3 separate regions of the Homo sapiens genome follow, and regions 2 and 3 are each linked to region 1. Evidence: fine-mapped expression QTL. A gene starts in region 1. Each other region holds a variant in brackets. All regions are shown on one strand. Distances are from middle to middle. Region 1 holds the start of ALLC (allantoicase). Region 2 has its middle 8.8 kb from the start of COLEC11. Region 3 holds the start of COLEC11 (collectin subfamily member 11).

The links. PIP is the estimated chance that this variant, and not a neighbour inherited with it, causes the effect. A credible set is the group of variants that fine-mapping cannot tell apart.
Region 2: its variant is the best candidate, but not a certain one, in a credible set for the expression of ALLC in atrial appendage (GTEx, PIP 0.56).
Region 3: its variant is the best candidate, but not a certain one, in a credible set for the expression of ALLC in liver (GTEx, PIP 0.70).

What each region holds. Positions count from the first base shown.
Region 1 is chr2:3,655,602-3,661,635 of GRCh38, reverse strand. It overlaps ALLC (allantoicase), which reads right to left and starts at 3,436. Exons shown (of 12, transcript NM_018436.4): 1 at 3,342-3,436. RefSeq lists a silencer at 1,291-1,567.
Region 2 is chr2:3,583,296-3,589,329 of GRCh38, reverse strand. No RefSeq gene overlaps it. Among named protein-coding and RNA genes, the nearest start is that of COLEC11, 8.8 kb to the left of the region's middle. The variant G/A (reference allele first, on the strand shown) is at 3,393.
Region 3 is chr2:3,591,966-3,597,999 of GRCh38, reverse strand. COLEC11 (collectin subfamily member 11) reads right to left here and starts at 2,888. Exons shown (of 7, transcript NM_024027.5): 1 at 2,832-2,888. The variant A/G (reference allele first, on the strand shown) is at 3,229.

The DNA of each region.
Region 1 (6,034 bases):
CCTTGACAGCTTCCCAAAGCAAAGACTTGCAGCATCTTTTGTGCCCAGTTCACAAGCCCAGGACACTTAACCTGAATTCCAGGGAACAGCCCCAGCACTGGTCTGTTTCTCTGGGAATACTCATTCTTTTCCCTCCAGCAGATGGTCCTGGGCCCCAAGCATTTCTCCTAGAACATCAAGCTCCTCTTGTTTCACAGCAGATCCAGCCCAGGCAGCAGCCCCCACAGGCCAAGCTTAATTAAAGCCTTCCCTGAACCCCTGCTTGAGGCTTTTCTGCCAATGACCCAGCAGCTAAATGCTTGCGTGCATTGAGGTCAGATGCCTGGCATGGTTTTCAAAACATGTGTGTACCATGAGCCAGGAGCAGAAGGAAGGGAACTGATGTCTCTAAGCATGAACTCTATAGCTCCATATCTGTTCCCGTATCTCCCGTACTCCAAGCCTTGGAGTCACACATTATTATACCCATTGCTAAGGAACTCAGAGACGGGACGGAGGCTCTCACCCAATGTCATTCAGCTAATGAACAGGGAGGGGGACGGGTTGTGAATGCAGATGAGTCCGACCCCAGGCCTATGCTGTTTGAAACCACAGCCCCTCTCACTTTATTATGAAAAAAACAGTGTTAGATATAAGTCCTAAATTTCTCTTCAAAGAATCAGTATGTCAGTATGTTCAATTATTTGCCTTCTACTTTTAACTTAACTTCCTCATAAAGCAACCTTTTTTGATCACCTGCTCCACCCTGACTCATTCCGATCACCTGCTCCACCCTGACTCATTCCGATCACCTGCTCCACCCTGACTCATTCCGATTTCCTGCCCCACCCTGACTCATTCCGTTTTCCTGCTCTGCCATAACCATTTTTCCCACCAAACCACTCACCCCATCACTCTCTTTAAATCAGCCAATCAGAATTAGTTTAGCCTGTGCGGTCTAACCCTAGCCAATAGGGGAATGATACAGCAGCAGGGGCCACGTGCGTCAGGAATAAGAACCCCGTCCCCTCCCTTGTCCAGGTGTGCGCCATTGCTCCATCTGTGAGGGCACACCCTTCTATAGCAGTAAATGGTCTTGCCGAGAAGAAAAAAAAAATTGATATTCAAGGGCTGTTTCTTTGGCGGCACCGAAACTTTATTTATAATAACAGTAAAGGCAGCATCATCTCCCCAAATATCGCAAAATTTATTCTCTGTGTTCTCCCAGTGTCTTAGCCTATTTGTGTCGCTGTGAAGGAATGCCTGAGGCTGGACAATTCATTAAAAAAAGGGGTTTACTTGGCTCATGGTTCTGCAGGCGGTACAGAAAGCACGGCGCTAGCATATGCTTCCAGCGAGGGCCTCAGGCTGCTTCCACTCCTGGTAGGAAGTGAAGGGAGCCGGCGTGCAGCCACCACAGGGCAGAAGAGGAAGCGTGGGAGGGACGCCAGGCTCCTCCTAACAAGCAGCTCTCACCAGACTAACAGAGGAAGAACCGTCTCACCACCTCCAGAACGGCACCAAGCCATTCATGAGGGATCCGCCCCCATAACCCAGACTCCTCCCGCTGGGCCCCACCTCCAACACGGGGGATCTGATTGCACCATGAGGTTTGGGGGGACAAACATCCAAACCATAGCACCCCACAACCTCAAAGGCTGTTATGTGAAAAGTCTCCCCACCCCTAAGATAAAAAAATGTGAGAAAGGAGAGACCGTTTAAAGCTGGGCCTCCAGGCCACAGCACAGGCCCAACCAGTGTCTGCTGTGAAAGGGCCGTGACATTTGTCTTTCCTAAGTTTCTCTCCTCAGCCACAAATCCCAGAAGTATCCACAGTGGCCTGTGCTGTGCAGGGCCCCGTGGAGGTTCCCGAGAGATTCCAGGCAGCCAAGAGCTGGCGGTATAAGGGGCCGTTCTCAGCCCTGGTGGAGGTCACAGCTCCACGACTCTTGCGCCATGAGCTTGCTGAGCTCTCTGCTCACTGGTCCCTGCCGTTTCTGTTGATAAAATAGCCAAGGTCTAGGCAAGAAAGGAAGGAGCCACGCGACCTCGGCTGAGGCCACCAGCTCAGCAGCTCACAGTGCTCAGACAGCCTGTGGCAGCTGCTTCTAAGCTCATTGCTGCAACCCCTCCCACTGCCTGCTCAAGGGAGCTCTTAAATACATTTTCTGCTGTGGCTGAGACCAGACCCAGGGTCAGCTCTGATGTTTGAGGAACATGCTAAAGTTTTACCTGCAAATTTCAACTTAATCACCGCAAATGAGGAGCATTGTCATGGGTTACGGCAAGGCGATGAGGCAATGACTCTCTAAAATAGAGTCATGAAATTTCAGGCAGTCAAGTGGTGCTCACACTATTTTTTCTTTTGAGATTAGCCTTAAAATAAGAAAAGGCATGACCAGGCAAGTCTAGGAAGCACAAGAAAGAGAGACCTCCCTCTGACAAGCAGGGAAGGCTGTGCTGATGGAAGAGTTACTCCCTCGTAAAGAAGAAAACCTTCAGGGGCTTTGTCATCGCTGTCAATAAGTTCCGAAGAAGCCTTTGGCCAAAAGTATGAGATTTATGGTGAAATAATAAAAGTGGTTTGTTCAAATTTGGGACAAAATTAGAGTGACCTTGAGCAGGGACTCTGAGCAGCCCAAGGTCAACTGCACGAGACTCCTGACTACCGGCAACTCTTGGTATATATTTACATTTAGTTCTACTTTGTGACTCTTGTTTTGAATATAGGTTTACTTCACCATGGCCTTAGTTGTTTAGGTTTTTTTTTTTTTTTTTTTGAGACAGGGTCTCACTCTGTCATCCAGGCTGGAGTACAGTGGCATGATCTTGGCTCATTGCAACCTCCACCCCAATCCCATCCCGGGCTCAAGCAATTCTCCCATGTCAGCCTCCCAAGTAGCTGGGACCACAGGCACGCACCACCATGCCTGGCTATTTTTTTGATTTTTGGTAGAAATGGGGTCTTGCCATGTTGTTCAGGCTGGTCTCAAACTCCTCAACTCAAGCAATCCACCCACCTCGGCCTCCCAAAGTACAGGGATTACAGGCATGAGCCACCATGCCCAGCCTCTTTAGATTTTTTTTTAAGAAGGCCAAAGTCACATGATTTGAAACCAAACAGAGCAGTGACCAGAGCCCAGAAGCCTGACCCACCTGTGGGGCCCCTCCAGGTGTTTGGGCCACGCCCGGTACCAACACAGTTCAACGGCACAAAGTGGTGTCTGTCACCATCTACCCTCTGTCACCTTCCAAGTGTCGAGGGTTCGTTGCATGACTGAAATTCATCTCTGTCACCCTATTCTTTTGGCAAAGCCCACCTTAAAGATAGCAAGGTATTTATAAACCACACTCCAGCTCACCCAGCAGTCAGAAATCAAGTATTCATAAATGGATCTCTTGCTCCCCAGAAGCCAGCCAAGGTCCCACGGTGCTTGAGTGCCAGCTCAGAGAGAATGTATAGGGGCCTGAGGTAGAGACAGAACTTTGCAGAGATTGGCTGTGCCTGTATGATGTCACAAGGGTTGCAGAGAGGTGGAAGTAACAGGGGGAGCAGCCCCTCCCCGGAGAAGCCAAGCAGGCCTCTGCAAGACCCTCGCACAAGGCCCGAAGCCAGACATGGTCCCTGCTGGTCCCAGGGCCCTTCCCTGTCCCTAACAAAGCTGCCTCCGGCCACTGGCCTGGGCCTGAAACCCCCACCTTCCTGGTCCGGCCAGTAACCTGACTTAAAGTTTTATCTCTAGACGTCACCTATTCACTAATCATCATTAACTCAGAAAACACTGAGCACACCCAGCAGTGGGTCCTGACCTACTAGAGAAGACAGGGGCCCTTGGGAGGGTTTGGCTAGAGCCCCTCAGCCCCAGAAAAAGTAAATACACACAAAATTTTCATGGAATTTAAAGAAGCCCACAGATGCTTAAGAAAGGGCACCTTGCCAAGTGGATGCTAGGCCTGTGGCATACAAAACAACACGTGCCGCCTGCCTTCAAAGGCCCCACTGTCTGCAGAAGAACTTTCCATGCAGAAAGAAACAGCTGAGCCCGGCTTCGACATGCAGTAACAGACGTTGCCTTGCTTCACCACAGCCACCCTGCGGGGCAAGCTATCCACTCTGCAGATGAATCAGCTGGGGCCTTGAAGGCAGGAAAGCCACCCGAGGTCACCTGCGCAGGGAGGGACTGAGCTGGAACCAGAACCCAGCACAGCAGATGGCGCGCACAGGGGCCCTTGGGGCTCCAGAAAGACAACCTGCGTCCCAGGGAGATCCATCACCCACACGCTCCTTTTTCCTTCCTGGGTTTTCTTTCCCCAGGGCCTGACCGGCCTTCTCCTCCTGAACTCCAGCTTTCCCAGAGGAAAGCAAAGCCATTTGAAAGGCCGGCTCAAGGCCACCTCCAACTGAGAACCCCACCCCCAACCCCAGCCCGTCTCTCAGCCCCGCCACCCAGCCGTAGTTAGGATGCGTCCAGCGCCTGTTGTCTGATCTCAGCTCGCCCGGCCTTTGAGTCCATGTTTACACATCTGTCTGCCCATCCAGATGAAATTCTTTAAGAACGAAACCACATCCTATGCTGCCTTCCATAGCTGACTGTATTTTAATGAATTAATGCACGTGGCTTCGTCCCTGGCAGTTCTTGTCAGCCGTGACTTCCCCGCCACAGCAGTGCAGTGCCCCCGCTCGCCGCCTCGGATCAGTCACAAAGCTCACGGTGCGGAGAACAGAAGGGCCTATTTTTATCCTCGTGGTTTCGCTAAGCCTAGGCTGTGGCACCGATAAAGCCATGGAAGAAGGCACCCTGACCCCTGCCCTCCACACCCTGACCTCTGCCCTCCACACCCTGACCCCTGCCCTCCACACCCTGACCTCTGCCCTCCACACCGAGCTGGCTCCTACAATCTAATGTGCTTCCAAATCACCTACGAGCTGGTTAAAGTGCAGATTCTGACGCTGCAGATTTGAGATACGGCCTGAGGCTTGAGATTTCTCCAAGCTCCAGGGCGATGCTGGGGCTGCTGGGCCATGGCCAGAGGTTGAGCACAGGGCTCTGCCAGCTAGCTGCCCCATCCGACGTGGCAGCCACTAGCTATGCTAAATTCAATACTTCTCTAACGCTAAAATCAACTTAATTTAGTGAAGTTAAAAGTTTGGATGCTCTGTCTTATGAGGTAAGTTTCTAGTGCCCAACAGCCACATGCGGCAGAGGCGACAGGCTGGGCTGCACAGCTACAGAACTTTCCATCGTGGCACAGCAGACGTCCTGTGGACCCATCTGTGGGGCGGGAGGAGAACAAGAGCTGGCAGAGAGGTGGTCCCAGAGCAGTGGCCTGAGCCAGACGTGAGGCTGTTCTCGGAGCTCCGTAGGGGCTTCAACCCTCCTGCCTTGGTCCTGCCAAGACATGAGGATTCTCATGGAAAGGGCTGGAGCACCCTCAGAATAATGCCGCCATCCCCGGCCTCCCTGGGCTCCCAGGAGGCAAGGAGATCAGCCTGCGATGATGGAGGTGCTGGCTGCCTGGACGGGCTCCTCCCGACCCCTGCGCAGCCCCTGGCTGAAGTGGGTGTCCCGCTCACTAGGTGGGGACCTGATGTTGAGGAAATGTCCACTCTTCAGGCACAACAACCTCCCACCTCTTCCTCCCCCCGCCCCATTCCACTGGGAGCTCGCTGGCTCTGCTGACAGCAGGCTACCCACATCCCCCACCGGAGCGGGCAACAGGCTTTGCAGCGCTCCAGCAGAAGCACAGGGCAGCGCTTAGGGGCTCCAGCAGAAGCACAGGGGCAGAGCTCAGGGGCAATGCTCGAGGCTTGTCTTATGGCTCCAGCTGCAAGAGGCCAGTGGTTTCCTTAATGCTGTCCCTTTAATTAGGCAAATACTTAAAACTTGTCATTCTAAGGCTGGGCACAGTGGTCCATGCTTATAATCCCAGCACTTCGGGAGGCTGAGACGGGAGGATCCCTTGAGCCCAGGGGTTTGAGACCAACCTGGGCAACACAGTGAGACCCCATCTCTGAAAAACAAAAGTTTTTTAATTAGACAAGCATGATGACACA
Region 2 (6,034 bases), 72 kb after region 1:
ATGAGGGGAAACAGGGGGCAATGTGAAATGGTGCAGCCAGCTGGGTGTGGTGGCTCAGGCCCGTGGTCCCAGCACTCTGGGAGGCTGAGGCGGGCGGATCACGAGGTCAAGAGATCGAGGCCATCCTGGCCAACATGGTGAAGCCCCATCGCTACTAAAAATAAAAAATTAGCCAGTTGTGGTGGCGCATGCCTGTAGTCCCAGCTACTCCAGAGGCTGAGGCAGGAGAATCGCTTGAGCCCAGGAGGCGGAGGTTGCAGTGAGCCAAGATCACACCACTGCACTCCAGCCTGGACAACAGAGTGAGACTCCGTCACAAAAAAAAAAAAAATGAAAGAAAAAAGAAATGGTGCAGCCACGCTGGAAAAGTCCGAGAGTGCCTCAAAAAACTAAACGTACAACCACACTACCACCCAGCAGCTGCACTCTAGGAATTATTCCAGAGAAGTGGAAAGCTGTGTTCACACGCACCGGGGCCGTCCAGTCTTTTGGCTTCCCTGGGCCACATTGGAAGAAGAATTGCCTTGGGCCACACATAAAATACACTAACAATAGTTGGTGAGCAAAAAAAAAAAAAAATCTCACGATGTTTTAAGAAAGCTTACGAATTTGTGTAGGGCCACGTTCAAGCCATCCTGGGCCACATGCAGCCCCAGGGCTGTGGGTTGGACAAGCTTGCTGTACACCAAGGTTTACAGCAGCTTTACCTATAATATCCCAAAACAGGATAATCAGCCTGGACATCCTTCAACAGGTGAATGGTTAAACAGACTGTGGCACATGCCCGCCATGGAACGCGGCCCTGTCACAAAGAGGAACCCACCATAGACCCACGCAGCACCTTGTAGGAACTAGGGACTCTACTCACTGAAAAATACCAGCCCCAAAATGCTCCTTACTGTATGATTGTCTTTATACAACACTCCTGAGATGGCCAAACTACAGAAACTGAGAAGAGACTCACGGTTGCCAGGGATCCAGGAGGAAGCGGGGCAGAGGGAAGGGGGTGCTGTAGGAGGGTGCCGTGCGGGGTCCCCGTGGTGACTGCAGCGAGGCACGTCCCTGTATCTGGCTGGGAGACTGTCCTGCAGTTTCACAAGGTGCTGCCCTTGGGGATATTAAGTACACAGCCTCTCTTACAACTGCATGTGAACCTATAATTATCTCTAGATATTAATAAAAGTTTAGTTTTTAAAAAGCTGCCTGACAGCCCTTATGTTTTTGTTTATGTTTTTGGGGGGGTTTTTTGGGGTTTTTTTTTTTTTTTTTGAGATGGAGTCTCGTTCCGTTGCCCAGGCTGGAGTGCAGTGGGGTGATCTCAGCTCACTGCAAGCTCCACCTCCTCAGTTCAAGCGATTCTTCTGCCTCAGCCTCCTGAGTAGCTGGGACTACAGGCGCCCGCCACCACACCCGGCTAATTTTATGTATTTTAGTAGAGACGGGGTTTCACCGTGTTAGCCAGGATGGTCTCGCTCTTCTGACTTCATGATCCACCCACCTCGGCCTCCCAAAGTGCTGGGAGTACAGATGTGAACCATCGCACCCAGCCCAGCCCTTACGTTTTTATATTATTTGGCTGTATATTCTTTCATTGCCTGCTCCCGTGAACACAAATTTCTACAAAGAGAACAGAAGATGACTCAGTATTTGCTCTTTCTTGCATGGTTATTTAAATATCTTCTTATTGGTAGCTTCAAAACAGTTTACTTCAGCTCCACAAGCCTTTATCAGTGACGCCATGAACAGTTTTTGGATAGCTGTCAAGTCTGGGGAAACCTCTATCAGTTTTCTTTCATATACTAGGTGTTTGATTTCAGGCATCTCAACGATTGGGTTTTGGTTTGTTTTGTTCAGAGTAATCCTAGTCTTTGAAATGACCACACCACTGACCAATTTGTAGCTCATGACCTCCTCCTGCACCATGAACCACCCAGCATATCCAGCTGAAATCCAAAATAATATAACCCCAACTCAACGTCAGTTTGTTCTCCCCACCCCTCGGGCTCAGGGACATTTGACAATGTGCAGGAGACATTTTTAGTTGTCACAACTGGGGACATGGTACTGGCTTCTAGTGGGAGAGGACAGGGAGGCTGCTAAACATTCTACAATGCATGGGATGGCCCCACAGCACAGAGCTCTCCAGCCCTAAAAGCTAACAGTGCCAAGGTGGGGAAACCCTCAGCAGGATGCAAAGATGCCTGGGCCGCATCGGCACCACTCAGCAGGAGGCTGTGACAGAGGAACCAGACAGCGGTCTTCACTCATTGTGCTTTTTTTTTTTTTTTTTTTGAGACAGAGTCTGGCTCTGTCGCCCAGGCTGGAGTGCAGTGGCGCGATCTCGGCTCACTGCAAGCTCCACCTCCTGGGTTCACGTCATTCTCCTGCCTCAGCCTCCCAAGCAGCTGGGACTACAGGCGCCCGCCACCACGCCCAGCTAATTTTTTGTATTTTTAGTAGAGACGGGGTTTCACCGTGTTAGCCAGGATGGTCTCGATCTCCTGACCTCGTGATCCGCCCGCCTCGGCCTCCCAAAGTGCTGGGATTACAGGCGTGAGCCACCGCACCCGGCCCATTGTGCTTAATATTTTATTTGTGCTAATTTTATACAAATATATGACCACAGAACTCAATGCTAAGGCCTCTCCAGCCGGATCTTTATTGGCCTCATGGTGAATCTGCCTCTATTGTCTGAAGTGGGGTGTGGAGCACAGTGTGCCCAGGCCAGGCCCATCACATCATGTCCTTTGGGCAGCCATCCCCTCTGCCCGTGGAGGACGCAAACTGGGGTGAAGAGAACGGAACGTGTGTAGAACCCGGTGCCAGCTAGGATCATTCACGACCGCTCGCTCATGGAGGCCTCACAGCTACCCTCATAGCAAGGAGGAGTTGTCGCCCCTGTTTCAGAGTTCAAGAATGAGAGACCTTGCCCAAGATCACAGTTCACAAAGAACGTGCCAGTCGGAGTCTGGGCCCGTCACACTAAAGCTGCACTTGTCACCAAGCAAGCCAGCAAGGCCCACAGGACCCCCCAAGACCCAAGCGCCCAGCGTCTGTTTCACAGCTGATGTGGGTGTTTTCCGTTTGTTTTTGTGTTCCTGAAACGTTAAGGGCTTTTTAAAAATTAAAAAAAAAAAAAAATGCCAATAAGCCGATAATTACTCTCAGTTATATAAATAAGTGATCATTCAACTTCCTATTTCGAGTACACTGTATTGGAAGCACAGTTAGACTATAAACCGTGTTCACACCTGCACTGGGAACAGAAGGGCCAGGAGGCCTTCCCCCTCCTCCTTTTTCCTCTCCTCCCCGCAGCTTTTTCTTGAAAGTGTTGAAGTCGTGGCTGCTGGGAACAGCCTTTTGCCTCGTGAACCCTGACCCTCTCATGGAAC[G/A]AGTCCACGCCAGGGGGCCAGGAAAAGACTCTGGCGCAAATCCCAAATCGTATTTACATTTCTCAGAGATAACTCAGAAATCTGGACAGCAGGAGCCGGATGAAAACCCCGCTTGTCTCCGGATGGGAATTCTCACTGGGATCACACAGTGCATGCTGCCAAATCTCTGGGACATTGTCCATGAGGACATTAACGGCAGCCACCTCTCCCCGTCCTTAAGTTCCCGGACAGAGTGGAGCCCTCTGGCCTCCTGCCTCAGCAGTGTGGGGCTGGGCCTCCATCTTCTCCCCGGCGCTTCCCTCTGACCGTGCCAGTCCGGCAGCGCACAGCTGTCCAGGAGCACAGGCATGAGATCCGGAGCACAGGCATGAGATCCGGAGCACAGGCATGAGATCCGGAGCACAGGCATGAGATCCGGAGCACAGGCATGAGATCTGGAGCACAGGCATGAGATCTGGAGCACAGCCTCCCTGCCTGGGCGCATGAGGGCGGGGCCCCACCACTGTCTCATCAGAGACTATTAGGGAGTCAACTATCAGAGGTCCTCAAACTTGAGCTTGCATCAGAATCGACTGGAAAACTTCTTAAAACACATGGCTGGGCCCCACCCTAAAGCTGCCGATGAGATATGCTGCCGGTGGGACCTCAGTGTTCTCGTTTTTAAAACTTTCCAAGCATTGGAAACCACTGCCTACCTCCCAGGGTCCTTGGAAGGATTTGAGCTAATCCTTCAAGAGTCTACCCTGGTGCCTGACCCACATGGACCGACACTCAGTGAAGACATAGGAGCTGTTCTGGTGTCCCCAAACACCATCCTACTCACCCCCAACTGTCTGCCACACTAGACACTCCTGCTCCAGCACAGGCCTTAAAACTGAAAATCAAGTTAACCCCAGGCCAGGCATGCTGGCTCATGCCTGTAATTCCAGCACCTTGGGAGGCCAAGAAGGGAGGCTCACTTGAACCCAGGAGTTCAAAATCAGCCTGGGTAACCTAGCAAGACCCCCATCTTTACAAAAAAAAATTTTTTTTTTTTAATTAGCTGGGTGTGCACCTGTAGTACCAGCTACTCAGGAGGCTGACGCGGGAGGATCGCTTGAGCTGGGGAGTTTGAGGCTGCACTGAGCCATGATCACACCTCTGCATTCCAGCCTGGGTGACAGTGCAAGACTCTTGTCTTAAAAAGATAAAATCTGTAACTGGTTTGGTTTTCAAGGACAGGAAAACACATTCATTCATCTTTACTAAGTGCCAAATACTCTGAGAACTTGTCTGTATTTACTGATACTTTAAACTTGTAGTACTTAAAGTCAGTGGCTTTTAGAATTAGAGGGACCCTCAGACTCAGCTAGCCCACGCTCTTTCATTTCCCAGTGGGAAACCTGAGGTCCACGAAGGAATGATGCAGCTCATCTTCAGGCCACCAAACACAGGGAGGGACTCCCCACCCACCACATCAAACTCCCCAAGAGCTTTAGGCGAAGATTTAGCCATGTCAGGTTAAGATGTGGTCAGCGCTGCTTTCAGGGTCCCTGAGTGAAACGGTCAGGTACTATCACAAGCTTGCAGCATGCCAGAGATCACAGTCGGGAATAAAACTGGCAGAATGCTAAGGGAGTTCTGTCAGATAATGATTTAAAAGCTAAGTAAGGAGTGATTTGCTCTACTTTCAAGAGGAAGCTTAGGCCATTTTAGATCCAGATAATTAACAGCACGCTGACTTTAATGGTGGCCTCATTAAGTGTGTTATTACAGAGCACGGCCCTGATGTTATCTGTATAGCATTTTGAGTAAAATGTGATTGCTAGAGGCATTCAGACTAAACTTCATTACAGTCACTCACCCACTGTTGCTGCTATTGATTATAGTGAGAAAATTCGATGGAGTTAAAGCATTTCCAACAGCTCATCTAGCAATAACAGGAATCTTAGGAACCAGGCCCATCTCCAGTCATTGAAATGTCTCTTTCACTAGGCTGTGTTTGCATTGTCCTGTTATAAGTTTTAATAAATATCAAGTCTAATACCTGCTTTACAGGTCTAGTATCATCTCAGTGCCTGAAAACATTCAAGATGCTGTACTAAAGAACTGTGTGACTTTGTATACCTTCACTAGTTCCTTTATTGTGTTGTATGAATCACGGAGAAAAGGCTGCACTAATGTACCTAGAAGGGAAAAGGATTTTTTAAAACCACTATTACTTCCCATAGCAAATGCATACATTCATGCCTGAAGGTTTACTATCTAATCTTTGTTCAACAAAATCATGAAAAAGTTTATATTTACCTTTCAAAAATATTTGATATATTTAAGCTTTCTTGACAAAAAAAGATAACTTAAGTTTTCTTGACAAAGTTTACCGATGAAAATTGTGCGTGCTTAGCACGCTAGGCCCCAAACTCTTCCATTGTGCACTCCAAGTGAAACTTTTGAGTACCTCCAATGCGTAGTTAATACAGAACGCACCACGGTACTAATAGGGTATGTACGTTATAAAAACACAGAAGGTTTAAATGAGTAACCACAGTAATGATATCTAAGTCTTTTTGTTCACCAAGGTATTAATTTTAGAGAAAGCAATGATTGTTATACTTTGATATAACAATTTAAAATCTAGTTTTAAGTTTGGCACTTGATTTTAA
Region 3 (6,034 bases), 64 kb after region 1:
CACACCACTGCCCTCTAGCCTGAGTGATAAGAGTGAGACTCAGTCTCAAAAAAATGAAATAAATAAAATAAAATAAAAATAAAAAATACAAAAATAATGTCAAAACAAGGGGCACCACAAGGTTTGTAGCCAGACGTGCTGGTCCACTGGGCTCATAACCGTAGTCTCCCCGGCTCCTGCCTCAGCAGCAGTATTTTGGCTCCTTGTGGTATGTGGCTTCTGAAAGCAATAGTAAACTCTTCCTCCCCACCCACTCAGTACGCAAGTCGAACCTCACTTCTCAGTGTTTGCTGGATGCAAACTGGGTTTAGTTTTTTTTTTTTTTAATGTCTCAGGAATCAAAGGCTGACATGGGAATTTCCCCTCTAGCTAGAAGTGATTCTGTTCAGGTATAACCAGGTGTTCAGCAAGGCTTTTACTGCCCTCACTCCGCAGATGTCCCAGGAGTGGCTTCAACAAAGATCAGGCTCCGTCTCCCAAGAAAAGGGGTGAGTAGTGAGCAGAGAAACCCAGAGCAGCCCAGGCAGGATTTCTCGTGCCTTCACTCACACTCATCTGCTGATCCCAGAGCAGCCCAGGCGGGATTTCTCGTGCCTTCACTCCATTCATCCGCTGACCCCGGAGCAGCCCAGGTGGGATTTCTCATGCCTTCACTCCATTCATTCACTGACACCAGAGCAGCCCAGGTGGGATTTCTCGTGCCTTCACTCACACTCATCTGCTGATCCCGGAGCAGCCCAGGCTGGGATTTCTCGTGCCTTCACTCCATTCATTCACTGACCCCGGAGCAGCCCAGGCCGGGATTTCTTGTGCCTTCACTCCATTCATTCACTGACCCCGGAGCAGCACAGGCTGGGATTTCTTGTGCCTTCCCTCACTTCACTCATCCACTGATCCCCGGAACAGCCCAGGCTGGGATTTCTCATGCCTTCACTCGCTCCACTCATTCACTGACCCCGCTGCCCATTCACAGAGTTTCTGTCCACTTTCCTGCGAGGGGCCCCAGCTAGGCCTATGGGCACAAAGGAGGCACAGGCCCTGCAGCGGGGCGCTCTCAGACGCACAGCAGGAACCAGGGCAGGTAGGCACAGGGTGAGGGCACCCAGGCGCCCGAAGGAGTCTCTGCTTCCCAGAGGTCTCGCCCTCTGACTGCCTTCTTAGAAGAGGAATTCCATTTTGTAAACGGAGAAGCCACAGCTACCCCCAGGACCTCTTTAAGAACAACATCCTTATCTCCCAGCCAGGGCCCAAGACGCTCAGGGCCCTCCCATCAATGGAAGGGGCAGACTTGACAAGCAGGGGAGAGGGGGTTAAACGTGGAATCCTGAGAGGAAATACATGTTATGAATGAAATAAACAATGGGGCCAGGCCCAGTGGCTCATGCCTATAATCCTAGCATTTTGGGAGGCCAAGGTGGGCAGATCACCTGGTTAGGAGTTCGAGAGCAGCCTGGCCAACATGGTGAAACCCCCCTCTCCACTAAAAAGTACAAAAATTAGCCAGGTGCCATGATGCACACCTGTAATCCCAGCTACTCAGGAAGCTGAGGCAGGATAATCGCTTGAACCTGGGAGGCGGAGGTTGCAGTGAGCCAAGACGGTGCCATTGCACTCCAGCCTGGGTGACAGAGCCAGAGTCCATCTCAAAAAAAAAAAAAAAAATGAAATAGACAATGAGAAAAAATCATGGCTTCAGTTGCCAAACATGCTATTCTACTTTTTCATTAAGTATCTACAGCAAGGCCCAGCATCTTACAGGCACCACAAATACCTCCTAAGAACCACATCCCTGAAGCATGAGGAGGTTCCTCTCACTGGGGACTGCCCCAGCCCCACCGCGGTGTTTCCCTCCCTACAGTGACAGAGCACCTTCTGGGGCAGCCTGGATTCCACCCACAACAGCACACGCTCCTCTTAGCTTCTTACCAAGAGCACAGAGTAAGAAGGCACCTATCCTCTCTTATCTTCCCCCAGCGGTCAGCACATTACCGGTGTGCTCTCTTCTACGGTACATGGATTTTTCAAAATTGTAAACAAAATCGAATAGCTGTGAAAGATTGGGGCAGTGCTCTGCCTACCACAGGCAAAGTGCTTCCCATCAAACCAAAATTCCAGCTATGCACATGAGATGGCTTTAAACGTTCATCTTTAAATTGAGAACGACCACATCACCTCAGCTCTAAAAAGACCGCCAGTTCCTAGCGCAAGGCATCCAGGTAGGAGGCAGCGGCCCTAGGAAACTTTCCTCCTTTCCAATTTTGGAGACAAGATGACCCCACTTGGTTTTAGATGACCCCATCTGAACTCAAAGTCTTTCCCTGGAAAGTTGCCAAAGCAAGGCCCACCTTTCCCCCACCTCTCTGATCCCCGTTCCTGAGCCCAACACAGAGCCACTGGTCCCTGGGGGCAGTCGTGGCTGCTGTCCGCCTGGCCCGTCAGACGCTGCTCAGGCTCAGGAACAATCGTCAGGTTGTGAGACCAGGTACTGCACTGCGGTTTGGAATTAGCGAAGACTGTTTAGCCCCCTGGGCCTTGGGCTGTTTGAAATCTGCCACCCAAGAGGGTGACTCCATCATCCAGCACCTCTCATGGGTCGGATCCCATCTCATCAATAGGCTCCACGAATTTCCGCCATGAACTAATCAAACTTTGGAACTCTGGTGCCAGATTTATTGAGACTCAATCTTTTGCCTGGATCTAGGGACAGATTCCCATCCTCCTCGCTCAGCAGGAGCCCACCTCGCGCCCAGTTTGGAAGCCTGCCTGCCTCCCCTCTGCACTGTCATAGCCCCGTGAAACCCTCAGCTGCAGCCCCGGGCAGAGTCTCCTACCTGAGCACGCGCTAGGCGAACGGGGCGTCCTGCCCGTCGCTGGCCCGCGAGGACACTGCCCCCAGGCGCCTCATGGCTGCTATTTAGAGAGGCGGCCGCAGTCCCAGGCGCAGGGAGAAGCCTCGGCCCGGGCCATCAGACAGCCCAGCAAATCAGGCCGCCCGGCCGCAGCGTTATCTCGGGGAGCTTCCTGTCTGCGCTGCGTCCACCGTCCTGCCTGGGGAGTGTGGGAACGCCTGGAACTCCCTGAGGCCGGCTTTGGGGTGGGGGGCAGGACCCTCCTGGAGATGCCCCTGCTAACTCTCCAACCCGAACATCCCAATTTTGTTTCTTTTTTGGCTTTCTCTTCTTTCTTTTCGTTTTTTGAAAAAATAAGCATGACTACTGTGGAAATTCA[A/G]AAGAGCATAAAGAGGAGGGACGCTCATCACCTGGCACCAATCAGACAGAAACGAGGGCAGCTGACTGATCTCCTTTCCTTTGTTCATATGGGATTTCGCTTCAAAAGTCAGCAAGAGCTTGACCACGGCCTGTGGAGACCTGGCCACACGTGAGTCCGGAAACTCACTCTACGCATTTAAGTTTCATTTAAAGGCAAGTTTCATTTAATGCCAGAAACAAATGTTAGTCAGGGGCTGGACAGATCCAGCTTCTATGCAGCCCGAATCTTGCATGTTTTGGGGGATAGCGGAACCTTCTTTAAGAAAAAGATACATATAAAATTACAATCATAAGAAGCTAGGTTCAAAGGTGAATATTTATTTAGACTGAGAAATCATAAAATAAAACTGTAAAAACACAAATTCCACACACATAATAAAATTAAGGAAAAATAATGGATTCTTTATTTAAAACGTATTATTGAAGTTATACATAAATTTGACAACTTAGACAAAATGAACCACTTCTTGAAAACACGAACTACAACATGCCCAGCATGAAACAGATAATTCAACAGCCCTATGCCAAGGAAGGGAATTGAACTTGCAATTTAAACGCTCCCCAGAAAGACATTTCAGGGCCAGATGGTTTCACAGGAGGGTCTACAAAACGTTTAAAGAAAAATTAACACCAATTCTACACATCCTCTTCCAGAAAATAGAAGAGGAGGGAATATTTACCAATTCATTTTATAAAGTTGATTATTACCCTGATACCAAAACCAGACAAAGACAGAACAAAAACACTATAGACCAATAACCCTCATGAATATAGATGAGAAAATCCTTAATAAAATATTAACAGACAGAATTCAGCAATATAGAAAAAGATTTATCAACTATGACCAAATGGGGTTTCATCCAGGAATGTGAGGCTATGTCAATATTCAAAGCTCCTTTGATAAAAACCCATTAACAAGCTAACAAAGAAAATCAAATGAATATCTCAATTTATATAGAAACAGCATTTGGCATAAACCAACACCTTTCATGATAAAAACTCTCAGAAAAATAGGTGCAGGGGACCTTCCTCAACTTGATAAAGAGCATCTGTCAAAGGCAAAGCCACAGCTAACATCATACTTCATGGGCAAAAATGGAATGTTTCCTTCCTGAGATCAAGACAAGGCAAGGGTGTCCACTCTTACCTCTTACTCAATGCAGTGCTAAAGTTCTAGGCACACCAGCAGGGCCCGAAAAGGAAATAAACAGCATGTAGATTCGAAAAATAAAATAACTCTGTCCCTTGTTGCAGATGACATGGTTGTCTACTTAGAAAATCCCAGAGTCTACAAAAGAGCTCCTGGAAACTATTAAATCAGTGTGACAGGTGACAGGATACAAGGCAAACATTTAAAAAACCAAGTAGGCCAGGCGTGGTGGCTCACACCTGTAATCCCAGCACTTCGGGAGGCCAAGGTGGGAGGATCACCTGAGGTCAGGAGTTAGAGACCAGCCTGGCCAACAAGGCAAAACCCCATCTCTACTAAAAATACAAAAATCAGCCAGGCATGGTGGTACATGCCTGCAATCCCAGCTACTCGGGAGGCTGACGCAGGAGAATCACTTGACTCCGGGAGGCAGAGGGTGCAGTGAGTTGAGGTTGTGCCATTGCACTCCAGCCTGGGTGACAGAGCGAGACTCTGTCTCAAAAAAATAATAAACAATGAAAAACCAAGCAGATTTCTATAAAATAACAATGAACTCATAGACACCAAAATTCAAAATAATATCATTTACAATTGCTTTAAAAAAGGAATACTTAGGTGTAAATCTAACAAAACATATATAGAACTTACATGCTGAAAACTACAAAATGCTGCTGAAAACCTCAAAAAAGATCTGAATAAACAGAGAAACACGTCGTCTTCATAGATTAGGAGACTCACCCCAAGCACAGTGGCTCATGCCTGTAATCCCAGCATTTTGCAGGGCTGAAGTGGGAGGATCACTTGAGTCCAAGAGTTCAAGACCAGCTTGGGCAACATGGTGAAACCCTGTCTCTAACAAAAACAATACAAAAATTAGCCGGGCATAGTAGAATGGTCCCAGCTACTCAGGAGGCTGAGGTGGAAGGATCACTTGAGCCCGGGAGGTGGATGTTGCAGTTAGCTGAGATCGCACCACTGCACCCCAGCCTGGGTGACAGAGTGGGACCCTGTTTCAAAAATAATAAAATGAAAATTAAAAAGTATAGATTGGGAGACTCAACAGAGTAAAAATGTTGATTCTCCCCCAAGTTAATATACAGTACAAGCTTAACACAATTTCTATCAAAATCATAACAATAATTTTTGTAGATATAGACACGGCTATTCTAAAGTGTATATGAAAAGAGAAAGGAACTAGAATAGCTAAAACAATTTTGAAAAAGAATAAAATAGGAGGAATCAGCTCTCCGTCTCCGTCTCCGTCTCCGTCTCCGTCCCCGTCCCCGTCCCCGTCCCCGTCCCCGTCCCCGTCCCCGTCTCCGTCTCCCTCCATGGTCTCCTTCCACGGTCTCCCTCTGATGCCGAGCCAAGGCTGGACGGTGCTGCTGCCATCTCGGCTCACTGCAGCCTCCCTGCCTGATTCTCCTGCCTCAGCCTGCTGAGTGCCTGCGATTGCAGGCGCACGCCGCCACGCCTCACTGGTTTTCGTTTTTTTTTTTGGTGGAGACGGGGTTTTGCTGTGTTGGCCGGGCTGGTCTCCAGCTCCTAGCCGCGAGTGATCCGCCAGCCTCGGCCTCCCGGGGTGCCGGGATTGCGGACGGAGTCTCGTTCACTC